2 separate regions of the Homo sapiens genome follow, and region 2 is linked to region 1. The links come from fine-mapping of genetic effects on gene expression. A gene starts in region 1. The other region holds a variant in brackets. All regions are shown on one strand. Distances are from middle to middle.

Region 1 (11,356 bases):
GGATGTACTGCTTTTAACCTATCAAGGGTCTTTTTCCCAGAAGTAATCCAGATTTTATAAAATACTGTGTGCCCCCAACTTACATTTTTGTAAATGTATGAAAATTAATGTAAAGTTGAAAAAATTCATAAACTAATGATCTTGTAAGTAAAAGACAAATGCCAGTTATAGTCACTGACTGGATCTTTTTATGTGTGTCATGACTTGTAAATCTCTGCTATATTGCACATATTTTGGCATGTAAACCTTTAGAAAATGAATAAAAAATCAACTGTCAATATGTGCTAAACTTAAGGTAAAAATCATTTATTCTGTGTTATTTTAAAACCTAAAACACTCTATTGAAATCTGAAAACCAGACAGCGTGTGAGCTAATAAACACTTAAAATTTTATTTTTCAAAGCTTCTTCTTTTTTTTTTTTTTTTTGTAAATGAGATTTTCATATCGGCCTTGTGGAAATGTTTATAGTTATCCAGTAGATAGTATGAATCAACTTAGTTTAGTTTCTGTGTGCTTCTTTTATAGATACACTGTAAAATATAGCTTTGCATATGATTTCTTGATTTAAACAGCACAACTTATTCTATGTCTTGGCTAGAAACCAATTAAATAACCACTGATGCAAGCAGTTATTACCTGCTTAAAAGGAAATCTGTGGTTTCCTTATTTAAACTGATGAGTTTTAATGTCTATCAAAAAGGCTGTTATTGCAATGAATAATTTAGTCATTTCAGTCTACTAAACATGTTAATACTACAAGCATGGATTTAAGGCTGTAAAATATATCTAAAGTTTCTCAGAGTCTCAAGGATCAGAATCATACTTGGAATAGTTATGCACAGATATGTTTACTCTTTCAAGTAATATATGTTTAAAGGACAATCGTTTGTAGTAATTATTTAGAAAAGGAAGACTGAAGTATCAAATTTAGCGAAAGGGGTTAGAGAAATGGTTGATCATAAAGGCCTAGAAAACACGTCTACAGATAGAAGACCCTTTTTAAAAAGATGAAAGGTCAATGGATTTAGAGATATCCGAGTGTCATTTCCTCTGTTTGTCCCTTGGTGGAGTTCTTGAGTTACTTTCTCCTTTTCTGTCAAACTGTTTTTATCTTTCCAGAACTGGCTATCGTGTTTACTGTATTTAACCTTTTTCTCATATTATTGTGAATACAGCGTCTATTATAAATGAAAGGCCCCCTGAGATCACATCTCCAGCATCTACTTTGTATTCTTAACCATAAACTTTTGTTGTAGTTACTTCTCTTACTGTCTTTTCTTGAGGCTTGAACTACATCAGGGACCCTGAATGCTATTTTTCAGTTCAGCCACTGAAATTTCTTAACGGCAAAACAGGTTTAAGCAAGCGAGGTTAGTAGGTAAATTAAAAAAAAAAAATCTACTGAATATTTTAAGTTTAGGGTAAGATTTCTGGCACAGAAAATGAATCGTTTGTCAAGGTTTTATTAAATGCATATTAGCACGGGATGATATTTATATTTTAATCAATTTCATTTTTTACATCTTGATTTCAAAGGGGTATTTCCTTTTATTGTTCTTTTTTAAAAAGCCACTAAAGAAAAAACAGAAATCTCCATTTCAACATTCCCTCAAACATTTTGCTTCCTACATGCGATGACGTCTAATCACTCTGATCGATGCAAGCTTTAGGGCACTGATCTCATTTTCTCTCTCCAGTTCTGGCCGCCAAAGCAGCAGCAGCAGCAGCAGCAGCAGCAGCAGCAGCAGGCTCTTTAATTTATTGCAGGCGGTTACACTTTCGATCCCATTTCCTTCTGAACCCTTTCCTCTCAGGTTGAGTAGATAAATGCAGCCTCGGGTCTGAGAAGCCGGGGGGGGGGGGGGGGGGGGGTTGGTGGGTGGGAGCGAAGCCGGATATCACATTCCCTCGGTGAGGTCTGGTACCGGGGGGGATTAAGTCTCCCGGTTCCATTTAATGAAATTGCTGAGCACTTGTGACACTGGCTCTAAGACTGCGGAAATGGGGCGGGGGTGGGAGAAACTGCTTCTCTCTTCATTCATCCTCTGCGCCGGCGAGAGGAGAGAGTGTCAGCCCCTAGAGAGGGGGCGGAAGAGGACTGGGAGCTCCAGCCGCCGCAAGGGCGCCCCGAGGGCTCCTCTCACCTCCCCCGTACCCCTACCCCGCCCATTTCCTTTGCTTGCCCAGAACGGCGCTGCAGGGCAAAGCCGCCGCCACTTCTTTGCTGCTCTGGCAGAAAGGTCGGAGCCTGGGACTGATGGGGGTGGGAGCAAAGCCAGCAGGCTTCTTGGCCCCCGCAGTCTGTCCTCGCTGTTCTCCATGCAGCACACGTCGGACCCATTTCCCACGCTGGCTTGGCTCCGCCGCGAAGTTGGTAGGAATGAGAGTGAGGAGGGCGGGCTGGAGACTTCCTCCCGCTCGCAAAGAGGAAACCACTCCACTGTGAAGGACGCGCTGCAACTCCCTAGTCATCCGGGAAGAAATGTGCAGCGCGCTGAGGAAAAGCCGCCCACTCCTTCGCGCCCCGCTCAAGTGTGCGCCTGGAGAGTGCGCGCCAGAGCCGCGAGCAAATGCTTTGAAGATGCGGAGAGGCTTATTCAAGTTTATGGTCTGGAGAGGGAAGAGGGAGTGCACAACGTTTCTGCCCAAGCGGCTGCCTGAAGTTTGCAAAATCTTAGTAAGGCGATGAGGGGAGTGAGTGCACTGCACCATATTGCCGCGCATCGGAATGCACGGCGCAAGGCCGCGGAGTGGAGACGGCTTCTCCCATTTGCCTCCAACCTGGGAAAAAGGGGAACCAGGGTCGGAGGTTTGGAGAGAGGCAGGCGTTCCGATAAACCCGGGTTCTTGCCAAATGTAAGAGGGATTTGGCTTTACTGCCACTTAGCCGGCCGCGAAGGCGCTGCGGAGCCCACCCCCGCCCCCGGCTCGAGACTGCGGCGGTGCGCACTGAGCCTGCGCGCGGGGCTTTTCTCGCTGATGCTGCAGATACAGAGCTGAGAGGTTCGGGTGCCAGCAGCGGGAGGGTTAGCGGGAAGGCCGGGTTCCCTGCCCTGGCCTCGGAGGAGGAGCCACCACCCCTGGGGTGATGCTACTTTCACAGACTGGAAAATACTCGCCAGCTCCCTGACACACACTTAGACACACTTCCATCCAACGGGCATCTACGATCCCCTGTAGGGAGAGCTTGGAAATCTCTGCCGCCTCTCCCTCCTCATTCCTGTTCCTGCGCCCGCCCAAACAACCGCGCGCTACATCTGCTCGTTGACTTTATTGGTGTTTGTCTTGTTTAAATCATTCTGCCTCGTCACCCAGGTCTCGTAAAGAATACCCACACTGGACAGATTTTATTTTTTCGGCTTTAAATTTTTCTTTGAGGGGAGGCCCTTAAATGTGTATGGATACGTCAGGCGAGCTGAAGACTAAGCAAATCCCAGCAGCGGCCCTTTCTCTCTTTCGAGATGGTAAAAATTCTCCCCAAATACCTACAGTCCGTCTCAGTCGTCTTAATCCTAGCCGGGCCTCTTCGTTTACAGCCACTGAAATAAATGAGTAAATGGCTCAGTTCAAAAACACAACCAGACCTGAGATCTGATGAGGCCGGCTGCGGTGGTCGTGAATGAAAATTGGAGAAGCCTTGCTTCAGGAAATAGGGACAGTCAAGGGACACAAAGTCAAAAGGAGAGATGGGAAAGCTGGGGACACTTTGGTACACAAAGTTGCCATTAAAGTTTATTTCCCTTTTATCCAGATAGGTGACGCTACACTTTGCCAGTTACTAAAGGCTGCAGGTTTCTGCTCAGAAAATAATATCGAGGTTTCCAACATGTGTTTATTCCCCAGGCGCGCACACACGGTCTACCCCCGCAAGCAAGCACGACGACAGGAATGTCAAGCATTTAAACAAAGACAGACATCCTTCACCCTCCACCCACCGCCGCCCCTGCCCCCCGCAACCATCCAAAGTCTGAGCTCCCAAAAAAGGATCTTTCTCCAGCTCTCTGGAGTTTGATGTTCTCTCTTCACTACTGCAGCCCGTCATGGTTTTTCAGAACAGAGTGGCTTTCTGGGCGCTCGTAGGTTCCCCAGGACCCCGATAACCATGTCCTAACCAAGATCCTAAATCGCGAACCGGAGACACTTTCCGGGGGGAGGAGGACGTCGTCTGAGAGGGAGGGAGAAGGAGAAACCTATCCTGACACCAGCTCCGAAAGCTCTCACGCGTGAACTGGGCATTAGTCAAGGGAGGAGGAAATTTACCAGCCCGAGGGAGGGAAAACAAGTCCCCCAGAGAAGACGGCGGTACTCGCTAGGGAGGGGGACTGGGCTTTGGCTTAAAGAGGACTGGCTGGGATTGGGCACACTTTGAGCGGCCCCTGGAGCTGAGGCTGGGCTTTCCCGAGCGCGGCGGCTGGCTGACGCTCCCTCCCGCCTCCTTATCCCGGGCCCTCCTCCCTCGCTCTCTCCTAGTGTGTAGTTTCGGCGGCTCGGCTGCTACTGCCGCCGCCGCTGCAGCAGCAGCGTCAGGGACAAGCCTGATCCGTGAGCGAGCGAGCACCCAGCAGCAACCACCACTTTGGGCAACTTGCGGGTTTCCTGCTCGCGGGTAGCGAACGGGAGATTCCCACTAGCGGTTCAGTGTCTCCGAGCCGCTGCAGCCCGAGGGGCGGCGGGAGCGCCCGCACCAGACTCTCCCAGACGCGAAAAGGGACGAGACAACTGCGGAATTCACCAGCCGTGCCAGGGCACTTCCGAGGCCACAACCGACTGACACTTTTTCTCCCCTTGGCAAACTGGATTTTTTTTTTTAAGCTACTTGGCAGCTGTCTCTGACTCCACCTCCCCCTCCACCCCCGCCCGAAAGCCTTTGGCTTTTCTTCGGAAATCCAGACAGAATTGGGCATCTTTGTTAATTGCCGTTGGGGACGCCCGGCCGTGCGCTTTCGCCGGCTAACGTCGCCTGTGCTCCGAGCCTGGTTTGCTCACCTTTGAACTGCAAAGGGATCAAGTTCAGCTTGAGTTCCCTGCATTGGGAAGGAGAGAGAGCGTGCAAGAGAGCGAGTGGGAGAGGGGGAAAGGGGAAAGGAGAGGAGGGAGGAGAGAGAGGAGGGAGGAGAGAGAAAGGGAGGGAGGGAGGGGAGGGATCGAGAGAGAGCGGGGAGAGAGAGGCTGCAATCTCCTCCCTGAATCGCGCACAGCGCTGCAGATCCCACTGCTCCGACATGCGGGCCGAATGCAGGTGAGAAAAGGCACGGACTCTGCGGCTGCGAACCCAAACTTGGGCACCGCACGGTGCGCACTGCTCAGCCTTCGCCCCCGTGGGCGAAAGGCTGCTGCGGTTTCAGGCGGCTGCTTCGTGACTAATGACCTTGCGCAGAGTTGTTAAGAAAAAAGAGAAACCCGCGCTCTCCGGGGTGAGAAGGGACTGACTCTGGGCGTCTCTGAAGATGGCTCGGGCTTCTCTTTGGCGCGCCGGGGGGACCCTGACACTGACCGCTCTGTGACGCGAGTAGTCTCCCCTGCACCGTGCCCGAAGCGACGTGCCGGGGGATTTTTCATTCTCGATCTGTTGACTGGCTCCCCCGCTGCATGAGCAGAGTCGGAGTTGAGACTGGCTTGTTGCTGGCCCCAGCGCCTGGTGCAGGAAGCGACTCACGTTTGTCTGGGTGGCCGGAGCCGGAGCAGAGCCTGGGTTTGGAGTGAGTGCCTGGAACGTGAATTGGACTCAACTCGAGTAGCAGCAAAGACCAGCGGGCTGGCAGGCGGGGGAGGCTGCAGGCTCATTCCCCACCTCTTCCCAGCCCCACTGCCCGTCTGCCGGAGCGGTTCTGGCCCCTTCCGACAGAGCGGGGACTAGAGCCGGGGATTCTCCGCCCGCTGAGGGGATGACTCTGGGTTGGGGGAGCGCCGAACCCGCGGCGCGCAGTGTCCCGTGAACTGTGAGTACTGCGACTGAACGGCGGCAGGCGAGCGGGCGATTAGCACCCATTGCATGAATTATGAAACAATAACTTTCGGAAGAAGCAGGAGGAAAAAAAGAAGCATCTATCGCTGCCCTCCCACCCCCATTCCCGGCCAACTCTCCACGCCGCTTTTGCCCCCTCCCTCCCCTCCCTCTCGCTCCTTCCTTTCCGGGAGAGGGGAGAGGACTCGGGGGAGGGCAGGCGGCCGGCCCCGGAGGAGGGGGGCGCCGAGGGGGCTGTGGTTAGAAGGAGCAGTAGCAGCAGCAGCAGGAGAAGATGCTGAGGATGCGGACCGCGGGATGGGCGCGCGGCTGGTGCTTGGGCTGCTGCCTCCTCCTGCCGCTCTCGCTCAGCCTGGCGGCCGCCAAGCAGCTCCTCCGGTACCGGCTGGCCGAGGAGGGCCCCGCCGACGTCCGCATCGGCAACGTGGCTTCAGACCTGGGCATCGTGACCGGATCGGGTGAGGTGACTTTCAGCCTGGAGTCCGGTTCCGAGTACCTGAAGATCGACAACCTCACTGGCGAGCTGAGCACGAGCGAGCGGCGCATCGACCGCGAGAAGCTGCCCCAGTGTCAGATGATCTTCGACGAGAACGAGTGCTTCCTGGACTTCGAGGTGTCGGTGATCGGGCCCTCGCAGAGCTGGGTGGACCTGTTTGAGGGTCAGGTCATCGTGCTTGACATCAACGACAACACGCCCACCTTCCCGTCGCCCGTGCTCACGCTCACGGTGGAGGAGAATCGGCCGGTGGGCACACTTTACCTGCTGCCCACAGCCACCGACCGCGACTTCGGCCGCAACGGCATCGAGCGCTACGAGCTGCTCCAGGAGCCCGGAGGCGGCGGCAGCGGCGGCGAGAGCCGGCGCGCCGGGGCGGCCGACAGCGCCCCCTACCCCGGGGGCGGCGGGAACGGCGCGAGCGGCGGCGGCTCGGGAGGCTCCAAGCGGCGGCTGGACGCATCAGAGGGCGGCGGCGGCACCAACCCCGGCGGCCGCAGCAGCGTGTTCGAGCTGCAGGTGGCGGACACCCCGGACGGCGAGAAGCAGCCGCAGCTGATCGTGAAGGGGGCGCTGGACCGCGAGCAGCGCGACTCCTACGAGCTGACCCTGCGAGTGCGCGACGGCGGCGACCCGCCTCGCTCCTCGCAGGCCATCCTACGGGTCCTCATCACCGACGTGAACGACAACAGCCCCCGCTTCGAGAAGAGCGTGTACGAGGCCGACTTGGCTGAGAACAGCGCCCCGGGGACCCCCATCCTGCAACTGCGCGCAGCCGACTTGGACGTGGGGGTCAACGGGCAGATCGAATACGTGTTCGGGGCGGCCACCGAGTCGGTGAGGCGGCTGCTGCGCCTTGACGAGACGTCCGGCTGGCTCAGCGTCCTGCACCGGATCGACCGCGAGGAGGTGAACCAGCTGCGCTTCACGGTCATGGCCCGCGACCGCGGGCAGCCCCCCAAGACCGACAAGGCCACCGTGGTCCTTAACATCAAAGACGAGAACGACAACGTGCCGTCCATTGAAATCCGCAAGATTGGGCGCATCCCCCTCAAGGACGGGGTGGCCAACGTGGCCGAGGACGTTCTGGTCGACACCCCCATCGCTCTGGTGCAGGTGTCCGACCGAGACCAAGGCGAGAACGGGGTGGTCACCTGCACCGTGGTGGGCGACGTGCCCTTCCAGCTCAAGCCAGCCAGCGACACCGAGGGCGACCAGAACAAGAAAAAGTACTTCTTGCACACCTCGACCCCTCTGGACTATGAGGCCACCCGGGAGTTCAACGTGGTCATCGTGGCGGTGGACTCAGGCAGCCCCAGCCTCTCGAGCAACAACTCCCTGATTGTCAAGGTGGGAGACACCAACGACAACCCGCCCATGTTCGGCCAGTCGGTGGTGGAGGTTTACTTCCCTGAGAACAACATCCCGGGCGAGAGGGTGGCCACGGTGCTGGCGACAGACGCAGACAGCGGTAAGAACGCCGAGATCGCCTACTCGCTGGACTCCTCTGTGATGGGGATCTTTGCCATCGATCCCGATTCTGGGGACATCCTGGTCAATACCGTGCTGGACCGCGAGCAGACTGACAGGTATGAGTTTAAAGTTAACGCCAAAGACAAAGGCATCCCCGTGCTGCAGGGCAGCACTACGGTGATTGTGCAGGTGGCTGATAAAAATGACAATGACCCTAAGTTTATGCAGGACGTCTTCACCTTTTATGTGAAAGAAAACTTGCAGCCCAACAGCCCTGTGGGGATGGTCACCGTGATGGATGCTGACAAGGGGCGGAATGCAGAGATGAGCCTGTACATAGAGGAGAACAATAACATTTTTTCTATTGAAAATGACACGGGGACCATTTACTCCACAATGTCTTTTGACCGGGAACATCAGACCACATACACTTTCAGAGTCAAGGCTGTGGATGGGGGAGATCCTCCCAGATCTGCCACAGCTACAGTCTCGCTTTTTGTGATGGATGAAAATGACAATGCTCCCACAGTTACCCTTCCCAAAAACATTTCCTACACTTTACTGCCACCTTCGAGTAATGTCAGGACAGTAGTAGCTACAGTGTTGGCAACAGACAGTGATGATGGCATCAATGCAGACCTGAACTACAGCATTGTGGGAGGAAATCCCTTCAAGCTGTTTGAAATTGATCCCACTAGTGGTGTGGTTTCCTTAGTGGGAAAACTCACCCAAAAGCATTATGGCTTGCACAGGTTGGTGGTGCAAGTGAATGACAGTGGGCAGCCTTCCCAGTCCACCACGACTCTGGTGCACGTGTTTGTCAATGAAAGTGTTTCTAATGCAACTGCGATTGACTCCCAGATAGCTAGAAGTTTGCACATCCCACTCACCCAGGATATAGCTGGTGACCCAAGCTATGAAATTAGCAAACAGAGACTCAGTATTGTCATTGGCGTGGTTGCTGGCATTATGACGGTGATTCTAATCATCTTAATTGTAGTGATGGCAAGGTACTGCAGGTCCAAAAATAAAAATGGCTATGAAGCCGGCAAAAAAGATCACGAAGACTTTTTTACACCCCAACAGCATGACAAATCTAAAAAGCCTAAAAAGGACAAGAAAAACAAAAAATCTAAGCAGCCTCTCTACAGCAGCATTGTCACTGTGGAGGCTTCTAAGCCAAATGGACAGAGGTATGATAGTGTCAATGAGAAGCTGTCAGACAGCCCAAGCATGGGGCGATACAGGTCCGTTAATGGTGGGCCCGGCAGTCCTGACCTGGCAAGGCATTACAAATCTAGTTCCCCATTGCCTACTGTTCAGCTTCATCCCCAGTCACCAACTGCAGGAAAAAAACACCAGGCCGTACAAGATCTACCACCAGCCAACACATTTGTGGGAGCAGGAGACAACATTTCAATTGGATCAGATCACTGCTCTGAGTACAGCTGTCAAACCAATAACAAGTACAGCAAACAGGTAAGATGTATCCCAAATATATTTAAATATCCCAGGGAGGGCTAATAACTCTGAGACAGATTATCTTCTGTAAAGTTTTGTCTTCTCGTTTTTAAAGTTATTAAAATTTTAACAGTAGGAATTTAATGTTAATTTTTGCACCATTAATTTAGCAAAGGCCATCTACAAGAGGTATACCACTGTATTTTGCAAATTAGAATTAAGGTTCACTAAACTACTGAAAGAAGTATTCAGAGTAGGCAGTGTTTGGCAGTTCTCTTTGCACTTGACATCCCTAATTCATACTACATTTTTTTGTTTCCAGAATAAATATGTGTGTATTACTTAGATGGTTAGTTTTCACCTGAAATTATTTTCTTCTGTGGCAACTAAGTGGATAATTACATCCAGAGAAAAAGTTTCTAAAGTTACTACTGGTGTCTATGCAAATTGGATTCCATAGAAGTTTTAGCTATGTTATTTACAATGCAGGATTTTACAGATAAATAGATGCTGATTCATGCAGATGTAGTACTAAGTCTGAGATATTGAAATACTGACTACTTTGATGAAACTGCTGGTTTAAAAATATTTACTGATATGCAAATGTCATGCAAAACTCCACTTTCAATCTTTTATATCTATAATAATCGATACCTATAACAATTAGTGTTCTATAATGATATGCAATTACCATTTGCATTCTTTCTGTTTGGTATTAAAAGTTTGCAAACAAAAATACATTGCATGAGCCATTTATTATTTAAGCCAAGTAATGAAAATATTCATGATTGATGTACTGTGTGCAAGACTATTTTGGTATGCATTATGATATATTGAGAATGTAAAGATTATGTGGAATATTTGACATAATAGTTTCTCAGTGAAATGTGGAAACAGTAAAAAATACATATATTCTGAGGCGGAACTTAAGCAAATCTGAAATTTATTTTTGAAAGTTTTCCTCGTGTAATATAGCATCCTCAGAAAGTTTACTTTGTATATCTACCAAAGTTTGCCACACAGCAAACAAGACCTTTTGGAAAGGACTGTGTCTCATGGTACAGCAACCTCAGCTAATAAAACATTACGTATTTCTTACTGTCAGAACCCATCTCAAGAAACACAGTTATGATTGTCAATCTAATTTCTATTAAACATGCTTTGCATGTGGAATGTGGAATCCGAGAAGAATTGAGGCAAAGGAAAAAGTTATTTTATAGCCTCATTGAAGATTATAGTTATAGAAAGAGATATGAATTCTTAATTGCTTTCATGATTATTGAAATTAGTATTTTAAATAAATATTTTCTGTATATAGTACTTTACTGTAGCTATTCAGATAAGGAGAAACAGTCTGAATATACTTTTATATCTAATAACAAATGCAATCCAAGAAAACACCAGTTCAAACTACATTTGCATTAAATGGCTTTTGAAAATATGTCCTTTGGTGTATGTGAATTTGAATTATTTATTTATTTTAAACCAACATTTGACATAGTGGAGTGTTTATATCTGTTGTATTATTGTGTTACATGGAGTGAGAAGCTGATTTTTGTGTTGTTTTGGTGCTTTTATTGGTGTTGTAAACAAGGAAGATTCTAGCTAAAATGGTAGCACTTTTTACAGATTAAACACTCAAAAATAAATTGAGATTTGTAGACATTTCTCTAGAAAATAGTAACACCTAATGCAAAGGAGTGTGAAGAGATCTGTCTGCAGAATATTTACACCTCGGTTCTTATCCTAATGGTACTTCTGTCCTGTGTCTGGATAGCATTTGCGTTCTAAATTGTGTAATCTTATGCTTTTGAATGGACATATCAAGTGACACTTTTATGGATATTTTATGCAAACACTTCATATGTTCTGTGCTGTTACTTAAGCTTCATTTGGCTCATCAGATGAGGTTAGCTCTATATGCTTGAATATTTAAAACAGCTAATATCAAGACTGTTGG
Region 2 (11,356 bases), 610 kb after region 1:
TCATTCAAGGATAAATAGTATAACCCCATTTTTGATCACTCTGATATAATGTAGGACACAATTACATACAAACAAAAAATTATAGCAGAGACTTAAATACCAACCGAATCATGATGTGCTGAGGTACTATATTCCTTGCATCACAAATGGTCCCACTAATATAAACATCAGAGGGCATTTGATTGATATTTATATTGAAAATAATGCATTTATTTCTTACACATCTAAAATAAAAACTTTCTGTATCAGAAAACTTCCTTCTCTGCTATTCTATGTTAACTGATGGGTAGCTGTTTAATTAATTTTGTTCCAGAAGAACTGTGATTGAGTCCGTCTTGCATTTAAAATATAAAAGTTACTGCTGTATACATAGTAAAGAGAGTATATTAGTCTGTTTTCAGGCTGCTAATAAAGACATACCCAAGACTGGGCAATTTACAAAAGAAAGAAGATTATTGGACTTAAAGTTCCACATGGCTGGGGAGGCCTCACAATCATGGCAGAAGGCAAAGAGGAGCAAGTCACATCTTACGGGGATGGTGTCGGGCAAAGAGAGAGATAGCTTGTGCAGGGAAACACACCCTTATAGAACCATCAGATCTCGTGAGACTTATTCACTATTACGAGAACAGCATGGGAAAGACTTGCCCCCATGATTCAATTACCTTCCACCAGGTTCCTCCCACAACAGGTGCAAATTCAAAATGAGATTTGGGTGGGGACACATCCAAACAACATCAGAGAACTTCCTTTCATGTAACTTGACAAAAATATTAGGTAGAAAATATTAGGAAAAATAATTTTCTACTTTAAGAGTAAATATAGTTGACAATAAAACAAGAGTTTAAACTACATGGGTCCCCTTATACACATATTTTTAAAAAATGAATATATTTTGAAATTTTTTCAGAATTATAACAATTTGAAAAATACTTGCAGATGAACTGAGTAGGCTAGACATATCAAAAGAATAAGAAAAATTCAGATATGTCATGAATTCATAAAATATATGTAGATACTAGTTGATTTTATCATTTACTACAAAAGAATGTGGTACACAAATATACTATAAAAAGTTAAATTTTATCAAAATCTACACACACATTTACAGATTGCACATGGTACCATTTACAGCTGAGAGAAATGTAAACAAATGTAACCATGCAGTATACAATTATAACTGCATAAAATTAACTGTAGTCTATACTGTACTACTATAAAAATTTTGTACCCACCTCTGGTTGCTGGTGTGGTGAGCTCAAGTATTGCGAGTATCTACTTAAAACAGTGTGGTGTGTATGGTGCTAATCAGCTCCACGTGAGAAGTTCCTTTCCAGTAAATTATTTATTGCAGTAAAAAGTAATCTCTAGGGTTTATTTTTTATTTATTTATTATTTTTTTTGTGTGTGTGGAGACAGGGTCTCACTCTGTCACCCAGGCTGGAGTGCAGTAGCATGATCTCGGCTCACTGTAACCTCTGCCACCTAGGTTCAAGCAATTCTCCTGCCTCAGCTTCCGGAGCAGCTGGGATTACAGGCACCTGCCACCACATCGGGCTAATTTTTGTATTTTTATTAGAGACGGGGTTTCACCATATTGGTCACACTGTTCTTGAACTCCTGACCTCATGATCCACCTGACTCAGCTCGGCCTCCCAAAGTGCTGGGATTATAGGTGTGAGCCACCGTGCTGGCCTATTGTTTGTTTTTCACCATGTTTAGTGCAGTATCATAAACTTTGAATAACACCATGGGACCAGCACGAAGTGCCACTAGTGATGCTGGGAGTGCTCTCAGGAAGCAGAAAAATGTCATGACATAACAAGAAAAAGTTGAATCATTCGATATACACCATACATTGAGATCTGCAGCTGAGGTTGCCCCATTTCAGACAATTCATCTTGTAAACAAATGATGTAAATTTACAGTATCGATAAATGCAGTATAGTATAGTAAATGTATTTTCTCTTCCTTATAATTTTCTTGCTAACATTTTCTTTTCTATGGCTTACTTTATTATGAGAACACAGGATATGACATATAATACATACAAAATATGTGTTAATCGACTGTTTATATTATTGGTAAGGTTTCTGATCAACAGCAGGGCATTAGTAGTTAAGTTTTGGGGGAGTCAAAAGTTATATGTGGATTTTTAGCCACAGGGAATCAGTGCCCCAACCCCTGTGTTGCTCAAGGGTCAATTGTATTTATCATATAGAGAGAATCTTGTATTGTGGGTTTAAGTTTTGTTATCCTACTAAATATATGTTGTAAAGCAATTTCTTTAAATGGTTTGGGCTTCCATTTTCTTATTTGAAAAAAAGAATAATAATACCTCTGCAGGGTCTCTAGATTTCTCAGATGAGACAAATTTGAAACTCTTTGGAAATTCTTTCTCTCTCTCTCTCTCTCTCTCTCTCTCTCTCATTCTTTCTTGAGAGGGTCTTATTCTGTCTTCAAATCTGGACTGCAGAGGCACAATCATAGCTCAATGTAGCCTTGACCTCCTGGGCTCAAGTGATCCTCCCAGCTCAGCCTCCCAAGCAACTGGGACTACAGGTGTGCACCACCACACCGGCTAATTGTTTTATTTCTAGTAGAGATGAGGTCTCACTATGTTGTGCAGGCTGGTCTTGAACTCCTGGGCTCAGGTGATCCTTGAGCCCAGGCCTCCCAAAGTGTTGGGATTAAAGGTGTGAGCCACTATGCCTGGCCTTTAGAAATTGATAAAAGTGAAATATTGCCTTTGAATTTGGGAGAGTTCCATTTGTGTCATGGCTGGCTTATCCTGAGTAAGTCACTTTATCTCTAAGGATTTATAAAATGAAAAAGTTGGTCCATAAATACTAAGATTACTTTGAAAAATTATTAACCTATGAATCTGAGATAAAATCACTACAAAATACAAGTTATGATAACAAAGGACTGTATTTTCTGTATTATCAATAACTGTTTTAGTTTTAAAGTAAGCACTTTGCAGTGTGGTATGCTCCTGCAAAGGGTAATAAAATGGATCTGTTGGTGGTTAAATGACTCTTTCCAGTTTTTATTTGTATGGTGCCTCAGAAACTCCAGTCTTCAGTAACTCAAACCATCATGTCTCCAGTTTCAAAAAATATATTAGCAATTTCTCCAAAGAACCGCAACTAGCTTTTCCCTCTCACCTAATAGTAATCTGTGAATTTTTAAAATATGTAGGATATGTGAAGAACAGAATGGAATTAAAATTTAGTGGGTGTTTTTTTATTGAATTAAATTTAGTGTTTTTTTCTTGAAAGTCTCATCTCCAGAAGGCAGTGCTTCCAGGAATGGTTGCACACTGTCAGCTCATTTGTGTTGTCAGTGCTGCCACCTCGTTCCCAGAAGAGCATCTGTGGATTTGGGGAGAAAATGCAATACTTCTGGGAATAGTGCCCAGAACATGCAAGCTTCTGTATCATTTTAGAAAGTCAGAGAGGAGAGAATAAAATATTCACTTGCTTCAATGTTTTATGTACAGTCATCAGTTCTGGTACTAACAGCTGCAATATCCATATATTCTTATTTGTGTATTTTTTTTTTTACAGAGTCTTTCTGCAATGTAACTTTGAGCTTTTCTGTAGTTCCTTCTCTTGCAATCCTACCCCCCCGATCCCCATCATTTTCTTATTCTCAAGGGGATAACGCGAGCATTAACAACAACCAAAGGCACTGTTGACATACCAAGTGATAAGGATAGATGAAGTGAAAATATTATATTCTCTCAGCTCAAAAAGAGTACCTCTAATTATTACCATAATTTTATAGGTAATTTGTGAAATTACCTATATGAAATCTTAATTTTATGAAAGCTTAATCTGGTAGGTATGTAGTAATTATTCTAGTATTTGGGTATTTGCTTCCATGCACATTAGAAAAATATAACCAACACACTAAACATAGAATATTGCTTGGTTTTGCTGGTTTAGGATGATGCTCCAGTAAGCAGTGGCATAGTAATCTGCCTTAGGATGATCAAGTGAATTACAGATGTGGCGCTCAGAAAACCAATGAAGGGGTTGAACCGACAAAACTGAAAGTGTTATCATCGTAGTTTATAAGTATAGATAGTAGGATCATATAAACTGGAGGCATGGGATTTCATATACTTAACTGACATGTATTTTATCTTAGTTTTTTCTTCAGAGTATTGGAACTCCACTTCAGGAAGTTAATATTAAGCCTGCTAAATATGTATAAACAAAATAAGTATGTGTGCTGTTTTCAAGACACACACACACACACACACACACACACACACGCACACACCCCTTAGTTCATCTGGGCTGTTATAAGAACATACCATAAACTGGGTTGCTTATAAACAACTAAAATTTATTTCAAACAGTTCTGGAGGCTGGGAAGTCCAAGATCAAGGCGCTGACATATTCAGTGTCTGGTAAGAATTGTTTTCTGTTTCATAAGAGGCATCTTCTCTATGCATCCTCACAGGGCAGAAGAGGCTTGAGGACTCTTTTATAAGGGCACAAATTTCATTGATGAGGTCTCAGCCCTCATGAGCCAATCATCTCCTAAAGTCTGCATCTCCTAATACTATTGCATTGGGAACTGGGTTTTGACATATAAATTTTGGAGGGGACACAAACATTCAGACTATAGCAATACACGCACATCATATATATTAATATAATTAAAATATATTTTATATCTAATTAATATATATTAATATAATATATAATAATAATTAATATATAATTAATATATTAATATACTATGCATGTATGTACACATTCATATACACAGATACATATATATAGATGGTGCTGACTTAATGGTGGTTTGACTTACAGTTTTTTAACTTTACAATGGGTTTGTTGGGGTACTAAAAGCATTTTCAACTTACAATATTTTTGACTTATGATAAGTTTGTCAAGACATAATCCCATTGTAAGTCAAGGAGTATCTGTATAACAAAACTTATAATAAAACATGTATGTAACAAATACACATAAGTTTTTATCTTTTTGTGTTAATTTGTTCTTTATTGAACCTGTTTTGGATAATATTTTTTTTTAAAACAGGACTGTTAATGCATACAAGTGGAAGTTACTTAAATATATCATGAGTGCTAAAAAACTTCAATGGAATTAACATATTCAGAATAATATCAGACATATAGTATACATATTAAATTGTAGCTGCTACTCCTACTACTATTAGCATTGTCAGGTTTGATTGTGATTAAATCTTTATGTCTTCAAAGAGACACGTTAATTGATAATCTTAGTTTTCTGTTAATATTGTAAAAGTATCAGCTGCAAAGCAAATATTCAAAATATTATGAAAAAGCATTTGAAATCAAAATTTTCATGAAGTCATAAACAAAAGCAAACTAATTCCTTTAGGTTTAGACATGCTTCTACATTCTGAAATGACCCACACTCACAGACACACAATTTGATATTATAGTGTCTGACCTCAAAGACTGTTGTAAAACTTCCAAAGAAGAAAAGAAAAAGAAAATGATATCCCAGAATTTTAGAAATTTTTTAGCATTCCAATTCAATAAAAATATAAGAATATTTATTTATTATATTTTATTAACTTGTGAAGCTTATAGTTTCTGGAGTCATAGTAAATAAACACTAAATATGCTGCGAAGACGTTTTAAATAATAAATTGGGTCAATACAAGCAAAGGAACTGGTAAGGTGCTTCTGTCAAAAGAAATAGTGTACTATAAAATTACAAATATAGCCCCAAACTGAAGGCAGTAAATATTTTCATGACTATAGTAAAATGTATTCTATTCACTGTCAGTTAATCCTCTGATGTTCTCTTAGTATTAAGTGTGTGTTATGTACGTGCTAAACACTGAGACCATGGAGACCTTTTGTTCTGCCAGTCTTTGCCAATGAGTACAACTGGAGTAGGGATTTTAAAACTTACTGATGGCGGGGCGTGGTGGCTCACGCGTGTAATCCCAGCACTTTGGGAGGCCAACGTGGGTGGATCACCTGAGGTCAGGAGTTCGAGAACAGCCTGGCCAACGTGGTGAAACCCCATCTCTACTAAAAATACAAAAATTAACTGGGCGTGGTGGCTGGTGCCTGTAATCCTAGCTAATCAGCAGGCTGAGGCAGGAGAATCGCTTGAACCTGGGAGGCGGAGATTGCATCTAGCCGAGATCGCGCCATTGCACTCCAGCCTGGGCAACAAGAGCACGACTCTGTCTCAAAAAAACAAAACAAAACAAAAAAACCTA[C/T]TGATAAGTTCATGACATAATCTGGAAGTGACTTATTGGGATAAGCATGAAAGGCACTACATTCACAGTTGATGCACAATGAGGGCTTGTTCCACATAGTCAAACCGTATCACAGGAAGTAATGTCCTGGTATCCTACACCCACCATCCTCTACCCCACACCACCCAGACATGCAAGAAAAGCGTACTTAAAGTTGTAAAAATATATCAATCATAGTAAAGAGAGGCCATTGAACTCTTGAAATATTTTCTAATATTTATCTAGAAATGGGAAATTACGAGAAACATAGTTTTGTAGTGAAATCTATTTTTTTTAAATGCTGCAAAATCCATCCTTTTCTATTTGAGGCAAAATAACAACTTTCGTTTTCTGGCTAAAACCTTTAATACGTTGTGATGTATGCATCACTAGGGACTGCCTTTTATATCAGGATATTTTTCAGAGCTGTCAGCACAATTGGACAACCTTACAAAATTCATTTGTATCAGTTTTCCAAGTGAAAGAGTAAATTAATTAATGACAAAATTGGAGCATCAGTCATCAAGCCATGATCATGGCATGTTAGATTATTTTACGTGTCAGAATGACTTAGTTATTAACTTATTTAAAAATAGTTGTTGAAAAGTATTTTGACCATTATAAAGACATCATTGAAGGATAACAAAAGTAAGTGGCCTTCACACATAATTTCCCGGATGAACACCACTTCTGTATTGCTGAGACATGCTCTTGTTCCCTGGTATTTCACACATTACCAGATTACTTGACACATTCAGAAGAACAAAATTTAGAGAACACCTCAGATTTTTTTTAAAGGAAATTTTCTTATGCAAAGTCATTTATCTTATTTTCACTAATAATGAATTATCTATACCATAAATTAATACAAAAGAACTCGGTGCTTCCAATTTCCAAATATGTACATTTTCAGTTGAGATTATCATTAATAGGCTAATATTAAAAGCAATGGAATTGTTCTACTATATTAAGCTTCATATTAATGTTAATTAAGTTTCAAAGATTCAAAATCTATTATTTGGTGATAATAAACATGTTATTCTGTTTGAAAAATTAATTATTAGGCATGCAATTATTACATTGATTAAATTAATGGCTAATTTTTTTGGTTGATTTAAAAATTTTTTAATATTAAATAATATTCTGACATAATGGTATTAATTATTACAATGATCATAAAAATGTTCTTTTTAAATCATTTATTAATCACAAAAAGAAAAGCAATATAAAAATAAATAGTAAAGCTGGTAAACAAATAAGGCACAAAAACATAAGCATAATATGTAAATGACTTACTTTTGAGAACTACTACATTAAATTTAAACATCTTAATGAGAGATAGAAGGATATATCTTTCTTAACTTTTAATCAGTTTAAATATATGATTTAGCATCCATGATAAAAGAAATTCTAGTATAGCATCAAGTAGCTAAAGTAGTTGGATAACTAAGTTTATATACAGTTTCACTAAAATGTTTGTCATTGGACAGACAGAATCTTGTTAAAAAAACGATTTTGGCATAATATTGTAAAGCATATAAATCTTTGATTCTCATTTGTTAATTAGTCTTTATTATAGTTTAAAAATCTGCAAAGAAGTCAACAGTACTTCAGTTAATGTTATGTATCTATTGCTATTGGTGATAAAAACGTAACTAATACTTTGTTTCAAAACAAATTATACGTATTATTCTGGTGGCATTTGGGAGATATAGTTTTCTATGCTCTGGAAACAAATGTCTTGATTTAGAAACCTAAAAAAATTTCCTTAGAAATGTAGAAATATTTCCAGTTCTTGGGAACAACTGTTCCAAGTATTTGAGACTAAGACAAGTGACTGTTGCCACATTTGGTTATTAGACAGATTTTATTAATAAACCTACACGCCCAACCTACACATCACATTTGGTATCAAATGTCAGGACAGGCTGTGACAATAGAGGGACACTTGGGAGAATAGCCACTTTTTGGAACTACAAACCATGATTTGGTACTCCAAGAAAAACGCAACTGCTGAGTAAATCAACTACTTCCCTTAGGAAGAAACTCCTACCCAGAGAGGCACAAGTTAAACTGCATGTGAAGAAATGTACTATCAATGTTTGAAAGAAAGGAAGTACCTATAGAACAGCTAGTCAATCTCTACTTGTGATGGAATCTAGATTTATCTGATTGTTGACTATGGGAAAGTAAATAGTGACCCCAGGCATTCAGGATCATTTCACCTCTTTTCTCCTAAATAGAATCTCAGGCCATAGCTCATACCTCAAACATTTGTCCCAAGAATGGATTGTTGACTTTGCAGACTTTACTAGAGGGCTCTGATATTTAAGAGGCTTGCCTTATAAGGACAAAGAGAGAGAGAGATGATTTTGGGTTTTTAGCTTACATTATTCAGACATCCAAGTATTTATATGCCCCAAAATGTCATGACACATTTATTTCTTTTTATTGATACTATAATCCCAAGACAATTAAAAGTTTCACCAAATTCATTGCTTAGATACCAGTGATTTAACAGTATCTTCTATAATTTCTTTTGGTGATATTTGTTTGTATATGACTCAGAGTATAAATGTCCACAATTTTGAAATATTTGAGCCAAAAGGGGCCTCACGAATCTTTTAATTTAACTTGTTTATTTTATAATGGTGAACTTTAAGAGCTTTTTAAAACATATTGCAGTAATTAGTATTATAGCTAGCTCTAAAACCTACATCTTCCAATTCCCAAACCAATGTTTACATTCCCAAAGGGTTTTTTATACCGCTGAATTTTTTTTTTATTTATATTAGTAATTTGGCCACATATTTTGTTATGTAACCAGTTAGAAGTAATAGTATTATGTAGAAATCACTTCACTAAGGGTTTTGAACATCATCAAAAGAGGTACTTAAAATGCTTGGTGGTTGAAAAGATACAGATTTCTGTGTGTGCATTTATAAAGCTACCTACCAATATTCAGGTGTATGTGATGTATCAGAAACAGGAATAAGTGATTGACATATGATGAGTTTAAAGAGTAGTTGATAGAAGTGACATGAAAGTAAAGAGACAGAGCATGTGTGAGCATTCCCTATGTGCCAGAAATTGTATATCCACTAGATCATGTTTTATGAGGTCAACACTGCTAATAAAAAAAGCTACCATATTTTGGATTGGATATTATATATTAGTCATTTTACGAATAAGATCATTCAATTTCCATAAAAAACATTTTTGTTTCTTTTTTCCAGATACAAAATTGTGTCAACAAAAAGAATCAAACTCTGTAAAATATTTGAAGAGATTTATTTCGAGCCAAATATGAGTGACCATGGCCCAAGGCACAGTCTCAAGAAGCCCTTAGAATATGTGCCCAAGGTGGTCAGGCTGCAGCATGGTTTTACACACTTTAGGGAGACATAAGACATCAATCAATACATGTAAGTTATATATCAGGTTGGGAGTGGGGTGGCAGTTTGGGGAGGTTTCTAGGTTATAGGTGGATTCAAAGATTTTCTGATTGGCAATTGGTTGAAAGAGAACAATTATCACTTAAAGACCTGGAATCAATGAAAGGGAGCGTCTGGGTTAAGACAAGGAGTTGTGGAGACCAAGGTTCTTTTTATACAGATAAAGCATCCAGGTGGCAGGCCTCAGAGAGAATAGATTATAAATGTTTCTTTTTAGACTTATAAAGGTGTCAGACTCTTAGTTAATTCTCCTCCTGGATCACAGAAAAGACCTGGAAGAGGAAAAGGATTCTGTGCAGAATGTACATTTTCCCTGCAAAAGACAGTTTTGCAATACCATTTCAAAATATGTCAAATAAATATACTTTGAGATAAAATATTTCCATGTTTTTTAGGGCCTGCTATCTGTCATGCTGATATTTTTTTGATACAAAGACACCACTGTCAGTTTTAAGGTCTCTGTTTTAATGTTAATGCTGGTCGGTTGTGCCTGCATTCCAAAGGGAGGAGGTTATAATGAGGCATGTTGGTGGGGAGGTGCGGGGGGCTGCGGGGGCAAGGGGACACCTATTCCCACAGGGCCTGAACTAGCTTTTCAGGTTATCTTTGAAATGCCCTTGGCAAAAGAGGGGTCCATTCAGTAGGTTTATGGGCTTAGAATTTTATTTTTTGGTTTATCATTGTGTTTTAGGCCATTCTTGCATTGTTATAAAGAAATACCTGAGGCTGGGTAATTTATAAAGAAAATAGGTTTAATTGGCTCATGGTTCTTCAGGCTGTACAGGAAGCGTAATGCCAACATCCGCTCAGCTTCTGGGGAGGCTTCAGGAAGTTTATAATGCTGAAAGGTGGAAAGGGAACAGGCATGTCACATGGCAAAAACAGGAGCAAGAGAGCATGGAGGGGGAGCTGCCGTACACTTTTAAACAACCAGATCTCATGAGAACTCACTACCATGAGAATAGCGCCGAGGGGATGGTGCTAACCCATGAGAAATCCACCCCCTTAATCCAATCACCTCCCACCAGGCCTCACATCCAACACTGGGGACTACAACTCAGCATGTGATTTGGGCAGGGACACATAGCCATACTATACTAAATTGTATATATAAAAAATACAGATCAGAAAATGTAACCATGGTGGACTGTCTGATTTCAGTCCCTCAGCAATATCCTCCACATGCGCCATGTATTCTCAATATACGTTGGTTACCATGACTGTCGAATTCATTATTTCATTCTCTTTAAGGTGTCCCAGCACATGGTGTCCCATGTCTGAAACATCATTCCAAATATACTTCCTATATTTCCACCATCTATGAATATTTCTCCTAATAGACTAACACCACCATAGATTTTGAATTATCTTTTACTTCTGCATTCTCAGAACTATGCATGGCATCTGAGATAAAAGAAGTTTATCAAGTAATGGCACAAGGTACAAATATTGTTACAAAGGAAATTGTAGACTTCCTTAACTGAGTTCTTCTGACATGAATTTCATTCTTAAATAGAAAACAATTGATATTTTAATCCAAACCAGCATTTGTTTTTACTGAGATAACTGTAAAGCAAATGTAATGGTAGCACATAATAGGCATTGAGCATATATAAAGTACTCTCAACATTTTTGAA

Alleles and levels. Positions count from the first base shown, and alleles are read on the strand shown. Sizes are in standard deviations (SD) of each study's normalised expression.
In carriers of allele T in region 2, the expression in tibial nerve of the gene that starts at base 5,187 in region 1 tends to be higher than with C alone (moderate effect, 0.55 SD a copy in GTEx).

What was found. PIP is the estimated chance that this variant, and not a neighbour inherited with it, causes the effect.
Region 2: its variant is the best candidate, but not a certain one, in a credible set for the expression of PCDH7 in tibial nerve (GTEx, PIP 0.88).

The regions. Positions count from the first base shown.
Region 1 is chr4:30,715,183-30,726,538 of GRCh38, forward strand. PCDH7 (protocadherin 7) reads left to right here and starts at 5,187. Exons shown (of 3, transcript NM_001173523.2): 1 at 5,187-9,414. The coding sequence starts at 6,241. LOC124900844 reads right to left here and starts at 3,939. Exons shown (of 1, transcript XM_047416545.1): 1 at 1,449-3,939. The coding sequence starts at 2,725. The coding sequence ends at 2,159. RefSeq lists an enhancer at 5,996-6,706.
Region 2 is chr4:31,325,748-31,337,103 of GRCh38, forward strand. No RefSeq gene overlaps it. Among named protein-coding and RNA genes, the nearest start is that of LINC02497, 160 kb to the left of the region's middle. The variant C/T (reference allele first, on the strand shown) is at 6,247.